4 linked regions of the Homo sapiens genome follow. The protein of the gene in region 1 interacts with the protein of each later gene in a biochemical or structural test. Each region holds a gene or a part of one and is shown on either strand. Other genes may lie near its edges.

Region 1 (3,500 bases):
ACTTCTGTCTTAACTCTTCAACTGAGTATACAAAGATATTACTGATTCACAAAAGGTACAGATACAGAAAGTTTGCTCAATATCACACTTTCAAAGCTTAGCTTAGTCTTGGTGCTTGATTGGTGCCTATTAGTAGTATGATAAAGAGCATTATGAAAACTCATCTCACTATGGTTATAATCCAGGCAATTAAGTTTAAAATGAATATGAACCAATCTGTTTAAAATCTTCTAATTAATTTCTTTTTGAAATGGAGTTTCGCTCTGTCACCCAGGCTGGAGTGCAGTGGTGCAATCTCTGCCCACTGCAACCTCTGCCTCACGGGTTCACGTGATTCTCTCACCTCAGCCTCCCAAGTAGCTGGGACTACAGGCGCCCGCCACCACGCCTGGCTAATTTTTTTTTTTTTGTATTTTTAGTAGAGATGGGGTTTCACCATGTTGTCCAGGCTGGTCTTGAACTCCTAATCTCAAGTGATCCACCTGCCTCAGCCTCCCAAAGTGCTGGGATTACAGGTGTGAGCCACTGCACCCAGCCGTTAATTTCTTTACTAAGGAATTTGGTATAATGAATTATTTATCTAGCAAGTTGTATTAGAAAAGCATTTTTTTAAAGTCTAAATAGTTTTTTCCTTTGAAACATGCAGGATAAATGGTATCAGGGTCTCAGACCAGTTTACAAAAGGACAGAGGATAGGTACTAGGCACAAACAGACACGATTATCCAAGAGTAGCAGGTGAAGGTGTTCAAAACTAGAATTCAAACTCATTCATTCACTTAAGGTATGTAGAACCACTGGAGGTCAAGATTTAAGTCCTGTAGAAAGATAAAGTCCCTGCTGTTGAGTAGCTTAGAGCAGGACTATTTTCCCATGGAACTGATATACTATAGTTACACTACAGGACGGGAGATTTATGGATTAATGTTGCTTCTGTGAAAAATTATATTCACAGTTCTAAATAATATTTTGGAAGACTGACACTTGCCGATATACTATCCGAAGATTTCAGACTGACACTTATTTTTCATCTGTTGACAGTCTGAATTAGACCTTTAACATCTGAGTTGTTTATCACAGGTCTCAGACTAATAGTATTAATAGTTCTTGTGAAGTCCAGTTGGATTTTGTGATTCCTTAGTCAGTGCCTTTTTTAAACAGACTTACTGCTTATGTAGTTGTCGACAAAATGACAGTAAGTGAAAAATTCCCATCAGTGCATCATTCTGAGATTCAAAGTAAGATTCAATGAGACCATTTATTCTAGCATACATCACGAGAGATTTTGAAACATTCTGTTTATTCATAACAATGGGAGGGAATATTTTCAACAGCAAGTTTGGGCTTATAAAGGCACACAAATTACATAGAGAATAAAAGAAAAGCACAAAACACAATAAACGAAAATACTGCTGCATGAAAAATAAAAATAAGAATGTAATAAAATGGCAGGTCTTACAGCATAAATTATGGTTTCTCATAAATCATGTATTGTCATTATGATTAATTATTTCACATAGGCTATATGGTAAAGTGTTTCAAGAGATACAGCCAAAATAATCAAGTTCATGATTAAAACTTATTTTGAAATCACTATTTATCTTTGGTGCAGACTTTTCCCAAAGAAAGCTAATGAGAGTGGTTAGTGCATATCTCTAGAATCGGGTAATTTATCATGTAATACACAATTAAGCAAGTAGAAGTATGAGCTACAACCTAGTTATTTTATAGCTCATCCTTAATACTTATGAAACAATGTTACATGCTTATTTATATACCAACATTTCTAGGACAATCTTCTCTACCTCATGTGTCTTATCTTTCCCAACCAGACTGAAAAATGTATCATGGATTCCTTAAAGACCGAGACTCCCATTACTGAATCTAACACAGACAGTAAGTATCCCTGGAGGAAGTCATCTTTTTGGCCATAAGGCCTATCAGTCTGATATGGAGTAGGGGACTAAAAAATGTTGGTTAAAATGAACTAAAATGAATCATTTCAAATAAGTAGTATCGTTTTAAATAAGTATGCAAAATGAAACACAATACTGCACACACAGCAGGACTCCAACAAATATCTAAAGTACTAATTGTCTACAGTCCCCTCACTTGCACCCCTAGTGGTATACAGGAATAAAGTTACCTTTAATTCATCAAACAGTCCCTGTTTCCCACTCAACTCAGGGTACAGGTGTCAGAACACATGATCCATTTCACTGCAAAGTGGTAAATAATGGTTTCTATTTTACATGAGTGTTTACAATTCTCATGAAGGTATGGGAACAACAGCCAGTTCTTCAAGGGTTTATTTTGATCGTGACATTGACAATTCATTTAATACTGCATACAATAGTAGTATAATTAATGCTTCCCTTTGCAAATAATGTGCTTATTGCATTAGCAAAGGGGAAGAGCTAACCTCAATATTTTTAAACAATTGTTTTATAGATAAATACATACTAGAGTTCTATACGGATTTTTTTTCTCCACAAAGGAAGAGAACAGGGTCTAGGAGAAACTTTCATCACTGAATTTTTAAATTACTTTTTATAGAAGAGCACAAATCCAAGTAAAAAATTCTCCTCATGAAATCTGCCACAATTTCTGAACACTGGTAGATTGTCTATATGTAAAAATTAGACTTGAATGAAAAGTCCCTCTATTCTATGAGATATGGATTGACGAGTTCCCTATGAACCTAAAGTATTCATACAAAATGTTTTCAGAGGAGCAACTCTGTCAGTTGTTTAACTTCTCTGAGGACAAATCAAACCATCTGAGCAAGTAAGAAGTGGATCTTTCTCACTGTAACAAGACTAGTCCCTTCTAACCACCATGCTAAATCCCCTTTCTTGTTTCTATCCAACTTCTGAAAAATGTAGTCTCAATCAGAGGTGAAGCCTCCAATGTGCACAGGGGACTGGTTGTAGACAAGTAAGTCCCAGAAGTCAGGGCTGTGACAAACTGCAGATGTGCAGCTCCATAAAGGCTCACTGCTCAGCTCCTGCCCCGAGGGGCCCCAGGGATCCTCACTCCTGGAGCACTTCACCACTACCGCACAAGACACGGAGCCACTGACTCAGCCACAGAGGGGTCACAGGTTTGTCTGGCTGCGACACATATTTTCAGGAGCTGAGAATTTCAAGTATACAACTTCAATTTTCCCTCCTTATCCCAGAGGGTAAATTGTCATAAATCCTTGGGAAGACAGCATATTCTTGCTGAGGAAAAAATGTAATGGCTTGATGTTCTAAGAGTTGCGAAATGTAAGTACTAGAGGGACTCTAGAGAGCATCTAGACCAACTCCCTCATTTTATAGACAAGAAAACTAAAGCCCACGAGAGTTACATGATGTGCTCATGGGACACACACCTGCATAGTGGCAAAGCCAGGACTAGAACTAGAGCCTCTTGATATCTATTTAACCACTGTCTGTTGATTTATATCATGTATATTCCAAACCCCCTTCCTCTTTTCTAGCCTTTCTTGATTTGGGAG
Region 2 (3,500 bases), on another chromosome or scaffold:
GGGGTTCAGCCTGTGAGCCATCTCTTTTCCCAGCTGTCAGAGACTTGACTGCGTGCTGCAAAACAAGTCATACTACTGTGCGCAAAGAGTCAGTGGGCAGCAGGCGAGGCCTCGAGAGACTTCCCTAGGCATCTCAGGGTGTGCCCTTGGTGGCCTCTTGTGGAAGTCAAGAAGCCATTCTTGATAGGCGAGTTGCCAGATGAGAGGCTTCTGAGCACCCAAGACCCCCTGGCATAGTCAGAAAGGTGCCCGGAAGGAATGCTGCAGTGTTTGCTGATGCCTATTCAGAGGGGACATAGGGCCTCTCTTTCACGAACATCCTCAGATGGGGGGGAACTGAGGCAGCATCCAAACCAAGAATCAAAATAGGGTTAGAATTACAATTGGCTGTGTGACTCGAGCCTCCATTTTCCCCTCTGTAAAATGGGGGTGTCTCTCCCATGGCTGACTCCAGCTGGCCAGAGCTTGAGAAGTTGAGGGGATTACTTTATTTATAGAAAACCCCTTGGGGGGGTCAGACCCTAGGCCCCCTCCTCAGAGAACATGCTTGCTCTCTCCCACTCTCTCTTTTTTGTTCCAGGACCTGGTAATTATATGCTTAGAGATGAAGGCTTTTCAAAAACATCTTTCCCACCAATTTTCAGCTGGAAACGTGCATAAAAAACAGAGATATTTTTATCCATGTTTTTTTTTTTCCCTGTCTCCTCCTTCCAGCAACGGGCAATTATGAGCTTTTGCCTTCAGTCAATCGTCCTGTAGGAACTCGCTTCAGAGGAAAATTCATTTCCGCAGTGGTGCCAGCCAGTCCCGGCGAATGTGGGGTGTGCAAGTCAGGGGAGGAGGGACAGAGGGAGAAACGTGCTTGGAGCTCAGACCTGTGCACCTGGTACTCAGGCCCACGCTGCAGCCGGGGTGGGTGGCCTTCTTTTTTATTTTATTTCTCTTGAAATCATGGCTAATTTGCCTTCATTATCTCCCGCTCTCTGGGGCCTCAGGGGGCTATTGAGCTTTGACAAAGGGAAAAGGAAGTCAACTCCTTGCCAGGCTGCCTTCGCCAGGGTCCTGCCTAAGCGGGTGGCTGGAAAGAAGCGTGGGGGAGTGGGTGGGACTATAAAGTCAGCCGGCTTTGACTGCTGCCCTGTTCTGTGAGCCTCCTGGAGGGAGGACTCAGCATCTCAAAAGGGACCACTGAGAAAACAAATGCCCAGAGGCTCCACTTGGGGCGAACAGGACATGATTTGCAGGGACGGTGAGCTGTCGGCCAGGACCATGCCAGCTCACCGGGACCCTGGGTGCTGAAGAGGACATGGGCGCTAAGTACTCCACCAAGTGACGGTCCAGCCCCAGCCAGCTTCGCCCCACCATGGAAGGGATTGTTGATATGGTGGGAAGGGAGGGATAGGCTTTGGAGTCAGTCCAACTTGGGACTTTGATTCTAAATCGGCTGCCAACTGGCTAAGGGATCTGGGACAAGTCACTTCTCTCTGAGCCTCAGACTTCTCCTCTGCAAAATGGGGGTACTGGTGCCCACCTCATGGGTTGCTGGGAGGAACTGTGGGGAAGTGTGCACAGAAACCATAAAACATGGCAGTTCCCTCCCTGCCTGCTTCCCTCACCTTGTTGAAAGGTTTTCCTAGATCAATCATGATGATGGCTCCTAGTGATTAAGTGCTGGTTTCTGTGCTTCCTAAGCACGATCTCATTTAATCCTCACCACTTTTGAGGCGGTATAATCATGATTCTCATTTTACAGATGAGGAAACTGAGGCACAGAGAGGTTAAGTGATATCCCATGATAAAGGGCAGGGCCAGGGTTTGAACCCAGGCCTAATGAGGCACAGAGAGGTCAAGGGAACTGCCCAGGGGCACAGAGCTTCTAAGTGGCAGAGCCAGGATTGAAGCCCAGGCCTTCTGGCTCCCTAAGGGGTCTGGCCCTACCCTCTGGGTACCTTCCTGCCTACTCCCCCATCCATGCAAGCCTGGAAGTTGCTGTAATGCCTGCAGCCCCGGGGCTGTTCGGCTCCAGGCAGAGCCCCAGCTCCTTTGGGCGTTCCTCCCTGGCCACTGAGGGCTGGAACAGGCCAAGGGCTCGATGGAGATGCCTCAAAGCCAGTTACAGGCTGACCTCTGAATGACAGTTCCAATCCCCACGGGCGACAAGCCTCCCAGGAAGCCCAGCTTCCATGGGGAGAGCAGCATAGAAAGATCAGATAAGCTCGGCAGAAGCACGTTTTTCAGGGAGACAAAAAGAAATGCATCAATACATTTAAAAATTTGAAGCCTCATTCATTTGTTGCCAAGGATTGCAAAGAAAAAAATAAAGAACCTTAATAAGTAGCACCCAGTGTTGGGCCCTTCCCTGGGCCAGGCCTGCTCTAAGCACTTTATGAATGCTAAGTCAGTTAATTGTCCTAAGAACCATGGAGGGAGGCTCACCGATTGTCCCCAGTTTACAGATAGGGAGCCTGAGGCCCAGAGAAGCCACTGAGCTGGTGAGCTGCAGAGGCACCTGGAACCCAGGGCTCCCTGACCTCACAACAGACCATGCCCTGAACCCTTGGCTCTGCTCTTTCCCTCCAAACAGGAGGGCAACAGACCCCAAATGAGAAGCATCAGGGCACTGGGAAGGTGACAGCTCCAGTATCCCAAGAATACCTAAGTTAGGGCTCAGGCACTCACAGGCTGGGTGCATCAGGGCTAGCAGGACCCATGGCATCACCTGGAGAGGCCGCCACCCCCACAATCCTCCTCCACACAGGGAGAGGGGCTCCTGTCCAGCAGGCCTGAGCCACACGCAGGCCAACATCCCACCATGGGAGAGCGGGGGCGCAGTCTCAAGTTGGGGGTTGGCCTTCTGCGTTCTGGGTCCTGCTCTCCTGCCCTACTCTAAAACCAGCAATGTCAAGGAACGTGACCTCAAAATCAGGGTCACCCACAGAACCATTCAGTTTCCCAATGGCGGCTGCCTGCAGTCACAAGAAGACTGTGTCTAGCTCAGGGAGAGTAGAAGCAGAAGTCCTCACCACAACTGTCAGTCCCCGGTCCCCTGACTTCACCTCCTGATGCTCGCCCTGGCCAGCTCCACTCCAGCACACTGCATTTTCTCACTTAATCCTCATAACCACACTGCCACTTGGGCACTGTTATTCTCCCCATTTTACAGCTGGGAAAACTGAGGCATGGAGATGCTAAGTGACTTGTTCCTGGTTACACAGCCAGAAGTGACAAAGCGGAGATTTGACCCTATGGGCCCACCCCACCTTGGCAACTGCACTCTAAAGGGAGGTGAAGCCTTCCTGGACACATCTGTCCTTTCGACCCAAGGCCCACCAGACTCACATCCCCCTAGGGCCTTTGCATCGGCTGTTCCCTCTGCCCACAAAACTCTTCCCCAGACATCATCAAAACTCCCGTCTCAGCTCCTTCGGGAACTTGTAGAAATGTCACCTCCTCAGGGAGGCCTTCCCCATCCGCCTGTTGGAACTTACACACGCACCCTG
Region 3 (3,500 bases), on another chromosome or scaffold:
CAGTGTAAGTGGCTTTTTTTCCTAAAAGGAGATCATGGTTTAGCTGATCTATCCAATATGGCAGCCACTAGCAACACGTGGCCAATTAAATGTAAATTAATTAAAAGGAAAAATTCGTTTCCTAAGTTGCACTACAGTTCATGTACGTAATAGCCACATGTGGTTTGTGGCTACTGCTCTGAACGGTACAGACACAGATCACTGTAGAAAGTGCTAATGGAGAGTGCTGGCTTAAAGGAGGAAGAAAGGAAACAGAGAAAGGAGAGAGTATGACCTAGGTTAGTAAGTCCAGAAAGTAGACCCAACAATCCTACTATCTTTGGATAATCAGAATTTATTTTTTCATATGAAAGAAATTAAAATGAATATGCTAAAGTTTTATTTATTATTATTATTTGAGATGCAGTCTCACTCTGCCACCCATGCTGGCGTACAGAGGCACGATCTCAGCTCAGTGCAGCCTCGACCTCCCAGGCTCAAGGGATCCTCCTACCTTCCCCTTCTGAGTAGCTGGGACTACAGGTGCACACTACTGCACCTGGCTAATTTTTGTATTTTTTGAAGAGATGGGGTTTTGCCATGTTGTCCAGGCTGCTCTCAAACTCCTGGGCTCAAGCGATCTGCCCACCTCGACCTCCCAAAGTGCTGGGATTACAGGTGTGAGCCATAGCGCCCAGCCCCTAAAGTTTTATTTTTCTAAATTAAATGTGTGGGGCAATTATGCTAGAAGGTTCTAAGTGCTTTACATGTGTTACTTTATTTCATCTTCATTGAAATCATAGGAGGTAGGCGATATAATAATCCCATCTTACAGAGAGTAAGTGAGACTTAGAGAGAGTGTGTGAGTTGCCCCAGGCCACACAGCAAATTCCTGGATTCCAAGCATACTTTGTCTCTCAAAAGCCAGAGCTCTTAAGGCTGCCTGTACGAACTCCATTTGGGAATGAAGATAGAGGGAAGGTGCTCTAGATACTACCACCAGTCATGCATTAACACAAGTAGTGGGCCACAGCCTCAATAAACGGCTCCTTCTTAATTAGCATTCTTTCTCCTTTTGGCCTAATATTTTATGTTGGGCATGATTATTTTCTATTAGTAATGTAATAGTATTGCTTTCTAACCCCGTTCTTATCCCAGCCCTCCACCTATCCGCCTCTGAACCTTCCAAGTCTAGCCGTTCCTTTTCATCTATTTCTCCTGACAGTTTATGATAACGCCCTGAACCAGTTCAACATCTCTCAAGCTTCAATTGAGAATGGAGTATTTACCACAGAGAGTACCTGTGCTGTTCCAACATTCTTTCATACCTACAACTATTGGTCTGTTAAATATTTTTTAAATAATCAATGGCTTCATGTTATGGGAAGAAATTCTAACTGAATAGTTAAGTATTTAATGTGCTCAAGGCTGAGCTGTGATACAGAATTATTTCCTCTTAGATATAAGAGGTCCAGGGGAACCAGGCAGGTGCTCTTCCCCTTAGTTCAGAATAGCTCAGCTTTAATGTAGTCAATGTTCCATTAAAATGCTTAGCAAATTATTTTTTATCATCTATTACATATTTTAAAGCTCCTTTTCAATTCCTCGAACGAGTGACATCCCAACAACATTGTACAAATGAGTGACATCCCAGAACACTGTACAAAGACACACTTGACTGCATTTTCTGAGGACCTTGCAGGAGCACTGAGGACAGCCACCTGCTACAGAGGCAAAGGAGGAGTGAGCATTACTTGGGCCTCCCACGCCTTACCTTCGGGGCGAGCCGTCATCATGGGGCTGGATGATGACCACCTTCACAGTCACAGAAGTACGGAGCAGGTCGATCATCTGCTCGTGGGTCAGAGTGGCCACGGCTACTTTGCAGATCTCCACGAGGCGGCTCCCTTGGCGAAGGCCAGCCTTCCAGGCAAAGCCAAAAGGTTCCACATCTGCGACAATTCCTTCAAAATTCACATGGAAGCCAAGCTGGCCCAGCCCGTTCCTCCTCAGGGTCATTTCCACAGTCTCGCAGCCTCTCGTCACTATCTAAGGGGGAAGGAGACTGTTAGAGATGCCCTTCCTGCCCAAGCTGCCATGGGGCTCTGCCAAAGGTGCACGTATGGGCCTCCATGCCAGCCCTCTCCCTTGGGCCCTCGCAGCCCAGCCTGTCTCTCTCTGCCTTTTCCTCAAACTGTCCAAGTGACAGGACAAGGACACATTTAAGTTCAGAGCTGATCACAATTAACATTTGCATCAAGTGCAAAGAAAATAACAGAAGCAAAGCAATGGTTTCATTCTTCATTCTAAGTCATATCTGTTCTTGATACAGGTGTCCTGCTTTCTTAGATGTCACTGACCCAGAGCTTGAGAGCTTCAGATGGGCTCAGATAATTCCCGTTTTTCCTTTATTAGGTAAATTGACTTGACTTTTAAGCATATAAATCCCATCGTTCTAGATGGATTTTTGCAATGGAAAACCTGTAAAGACTTTGTGGACCATTACAAGTTTCAACCAGCAAGCACTAAAAACCATGAGACAATTTATTCATCCCAAGCAAAGAAAAACACCCCAAAGCACTTGAAAGCTAACGCTTAAGAGCCCACTCTGAGGTTCAGGAAGGGCAGTGGCAGAAAGTCAGAGCTTTAGGAAAACTCTAAATGTTCTCTACGCACCAGCCCTAGGGACATACTGTGGAGTGTTCTGTCCCCTAGGGTCCTTCTCTTGAGGACAGACAACTGCCTATGCTTGCCTGAGTGGTGAGGACCACTCAGATCCATGGTGGGGGCAGGCCAGCCAGACTCCTTGGCCATCTGTTCACAAGGCAAGTGTGTAGGATGGTGCTCTGGCAGGCAGCAGACAGACCCTCTGTGCTTATGGGCTGCCTCTCCTCCACTAGGCCTGTCTCCTAGGGGCTGAGGGCAGCCCCAAGCAATGGAAGCCTCAGTGTATGTACCTTACTCAAGAGTGAGAGAGAGTCAACAGCAGTTCCACAAAAAGGAACATGAAAGAAGAATGGTGGATTGCATCCCACTTGGTACATTAAAGCACCACTAATGCAGCCCTCAAAAGCACTCACCGAGCATAGTTTACATCCAATGAAAGAAAAACATGGGCTCATTAAGTATCACCCGATGACTATGACCTCACCTATCTGTGGGAATTTCAAGTTGGGAGGTATCATACTCCTATCCCCAAAAGCCCAGAGGCAATGTATGAAGTTTCAGTTTAATGAACACTCCATTTCTATGAAACATGCTCTGACTACATAGATACCTATTTAATAAGACCTATGACAGTAAGTACAGCTGTGGGACTGGGGCTGGTTCATGTATCACCACTGTGTCTGATGTTTCCATGGTTACCACAAGTGCACACAATGCCAATCAGCTTTTCCCAGACAGGCATGACAGTTCACGACTCAGCAAAATGCGGAAAGGGGACTGCTGGTTTTAGTTAGTGATGATGTTTTAGAATATTGACGTTTCTAAAGTCATGAACTGAAGTAACTAAAACTTGA
Region 4 (3,500 bases), on another chromosome or scaffold:
TATTACTCCTTCACATTTCTGTTGTTCATAATGACAATAAACACCTCATCCCATCACTATTTGACCTTCCTCAGAAAGAACCACTGACTGTTAGAGGGAAAAATCATTTGCCACAGGTGAATGACAAATAACTTGTGACTCGCTTTGTGGTTTCTCTCTTTGAGAGATAGAAAATATTACTTTCCTGCTTTTAAGGAACATACATGTTTTAAAAGTTGATATAGAGGGAGTCCTTGCTATCTGAGATTTTATATTGGAAACCTTGCAGTTACAAAGCTTAAAGGGAAGCAAAATTCATCATAAAGAAACAAAGAAAAACATCACCAAAGACAAAATCTTGCTATAAAATTATCCGTCATCAAACATCTGAACCTGACAACTCCTTGTTTCTGCTCACCATCCATGTTTTTCCTCTCCTGTACCTCTGACTCCAGCAGTATGTCCTGCCTGGGATGCCCATCTGCCTGTTCTTCTGTCAGTCCGTCCATCCATCCATCCATCCATCCATCCATCCATCCATCCATTCATTCATTGATTCACTCAGCAGCAGTTATTGAATATCTTCTGTGTGCCAGGATCTGGGCTGTATAGGTATACCCTAGACATGTCTCAGAGTGCAGCTCAAATGCCACCTCTTCCAAGTACCAGATGCGTCCCTGATTCCCTATTCCCTGCCCTACAAAGGTGAAACTGCTCTCCCCCTTCTCTGTGTGTCCATAGCACTTCCTGGGCGCTTTCTAGATATTTAGCATTAGCTCATTAAGAATGCCTGGCAATACGACTTCTCTTTTAGAGGACAGTCCTAAGTTCTGCTAGTGGAGTTGGTGTCTTATTTGTCTCAAGAGGAGAATTGGTGTCTGCTCAGTTCTGCATCTTTCTCCATGATGCTTAGGGCTGACCCAGTTCGTGACCAACAACTAGAGTCTTCTCTTTCTCTTTTTTACATACTCCTTCTCTTCCAGGGCTAAAGTTGCTGCAGCTGATGGGCCCGCCAGGAACCCAACTCAGACCCTCATCCCTGTGCGACACACAGTAAAGATAGACAAAGACACCCTCCTCCAGGACTATGGATTTCACATTTCTGAGAGCCTTCCCCTTACAGTGGTGGCTGTCACAGCAGGTAGGGGATGACTGGGAAATGAGAAAGGAGTTTGGTTTCTTAAGGGGAAATAGCCCCAAATCTCCCCGATCTCTCTATCCTATAACAAAATGCAGAAAATCCTACCTGGGAAGTTAGAAAAGGCACACCTAATTCTGTCTTGGGCTTTGCACCTTACTTTGATGCTGGGAGGGAGGAAGCCTCAAGTGCACTTGCCGCTCCAAACCCCAGGCTCCCACTGGCCTTGGCTAGGGCGTTGCCCACCCTTGGCTCCCTGGCTGGTCTCAGGGGCAGTGAAAGTATTTGGCTAAGCTAGCCTTCCTCTTTGAACCCCACACGCTCCTAGCTGGGGATACTTTCTGGTCAGACAGTAATAGAAACCATTGATTTGTTTTCATTTGAACCTTGTGAAATACAGGCTGTACCAGGGTGGAGAGGAGCAGGTGGGGAAAGTCCAGTGCTTGTTTTCATAATTGAGGTGTGTTAATCTGGGATTCGTTAAAATGTATTGATTTCTATTTACTACACATACACACCAGAGTTTTTTAGAGATGAATGGAGTAGATTTACTGGCCAACTCTATTGATTTAGAAGGTTTCTGCTAGTTTTCTTTCTCAGGACAGTCTTCTAACATCCCTGGAAGTTGGTGATAGATGATAGGTACATTATCCATGGTTTATAAACAGGAAAATTAAGATCCACATGAGCCCAAGCCTGACTGAAGGCGGGGGAGTGAGCCAGTGCCCCTGGGAACTGGATCAGGGTGCCATTTAACTGTGCCGCTATTACACATAGAGTCTGGGTCCTCCCGGCATGAGCACCAATTACTTATTTTCTGTCCAACAGGAGGCTCTGCTCACGGCAAGCTTTTCCCTGGTGATCAGATCCTCCAAATGAACAATGAGCCTGCTGAAGACCTTTCCTGGGAACGAGCAGTCGATATTCTCAGGTACTAAATGGTCTTCCATCATCTACAGAATTGCACAGATTATCAAAGAACAAAGATGGGCAACAGGAATGGCATAACTGATCCCCTGATTTTAATAAGGCTAAGTCTCCTTTAAAGCAGCAAAAACAGCCTCGTTTTAGAGTTCCATCTATTAAAACGGCTTCTTGTTAGTGGCTGTTACAGTCCACTCTCTCTCACTTGCCTACAAAAGAGCTTGGGAGGCACAGAGTGCTGTATTTGTCAAAGCCCTGCTATGCCCAAGACACCGTGCTAAGCATGCAGGGAATGTAATGATCATAAATAACCCACAGGCCCTACCCTCTAAGGATTTATAGGCACGTTGTAACATATGCCAAAGATTGAACTAAATTGATGCCAAATCTGTTCTTCTTTATCCCTCTTGATATATCTTCTTAAATATAATTGCAGGTGCATCTTGGTTGGCATATATGTAGTTTCATTGATGTAGCACCTCCAAACCTTCTGTCTGGTGTCATTGTGACTTATGAAAATGCCTCGCTTTTTACCTAGACAATGATTTCCTGAGACCAGGGCTCAGTGGGTGCTCAGTTAAATGAGTGAATATGGTTAGCGCTGGGAATTGGCAACCCAGACTTTAAGACGGAGGAGTGCCATTGATAGGAGTGAAGAGGACAAGCAGACATTTTAAGGGCACATGAAGCTTTGGCTTTTAAATTTTTCACTCAACATTGTTCTAATGACTAGTATAAAGACAGACGAGAATCAGAGGTAGATGAAAGCTAACTTGAAGAGATATATATATATATATAAAATTCAGTTTGTGATTTTTCATGAATGGCTGATCTGGCTTTGGGGTGGTATTAATTGTTTTTTTTTCCCTTTTTTTTTGAGATGGGGACTTGCTGTGTTGCCTAGGCTGGTCTCAAACTCTTGGGCTCAAGTGGTCTTCCCATCCCAGCTACTCGGGTGGCTGAGGCAGGAGAATCGCTTGAACCCGGGAGGCAGAGGTTGCAATGGGCCACGATTGTACCACTGCACTCCAGCCTGGGTGACAGAACAAGACTCCATCTCAAAAAAAGAGAGAAAGAAAAAGAAAAGAAAAGCCAAGGAAATACACTGTAAATGCTGGAGAGTCCTCCAACTTGGGCAGAAGTTGTAGGCTGACAAAACAGAGAAGGGCCCAGAAATATTTCAGTTGTGTCTTTAATGCTGGGTAAAATTTGGTCCAAAAGATGGAGGTGAAGGGTGATTCAGGCAAAGAGGTAAACAGAAGCAACTGGGTGGGAAGTAGGGGCTGCTGAGCAGTTCAGTTTGCCTGCAGAAAAGTTCTAGGAAGTGAAGTCCAGATGATAGAAGGTCTTGAATGCCAGCACAGCATGTTTCAGTGTGATTCTCCCCCTGGAAGGGCGAGCAGTTGAAGGCTTCTGAGCAGGGATGCATGACTTGAGGTGTGCTGTGCATCTGTACCCT

What was found. Proteins that work in one complex are often made in the same cells at the same time.
Region 2: the proteins of PKP4 (region 1) and GRIP2 interact in a test that uses a peptide from one of them, tested with the Homo sapiens proteins (one large-scale study listed by IntAct).
Region 3: the proteins of PKP4 (region 1) and SIPA1L2 interact in a test that uses a peptide from one of them, tested with the Homo sapiens proteins (one large-scale study listed by IntAct).
Region 4: the proteins of PKP4 (region 1) and FRMPD1 interact in a test that uses a peptide from one of them, tested with the Homo sapiens proteins (one large-scale study listed by IntAct).

What each region holds. Positions count from the first base shown.
Region 1 is NC_000002.12:158,463,452-158,466,951, reverse strand, and holds part of PKP4 (plakophilin-4), read right to left. Parts: intron 1-3,500. UniProt on the Homo sapiens protein: Plays a role as a regulator of Rho activity during cytokinesis. May play a role in junctional plaques.
Region 2 is NC_000003.12:14,533,843-14,537,342, forward strand, and holds part of GRIP2 (glutamate receptor-interacting protein 2), read right to left. Parts: intron 1-3,500.
Region 3 is NC_000001.11:232,459,134-232,462,633, forward strand, and holds part of SIPA1L2 (signal-induced proliferation-associated 1-like protein 2), read right to left. Parts: intron 2,029-3,500; coding exon 1,754-2,028; intron 1-1,753.
Region 4 is NC_000009.12:37,706,454-37,709,953, forward strand, and holds part of FRMPD1 (FERM and PDZ domain-containing protein 1), read left to right. Parts: intron 1-962; coding exon 963-1,120; intron 1,121-1,945; coding exon 1,946-2,048; intron 2,049-3,500. UniProt on the Homo sapiens protein: Stabilizes membrane-bound GPSM1, and thereby promotes its interaction with GNAI1.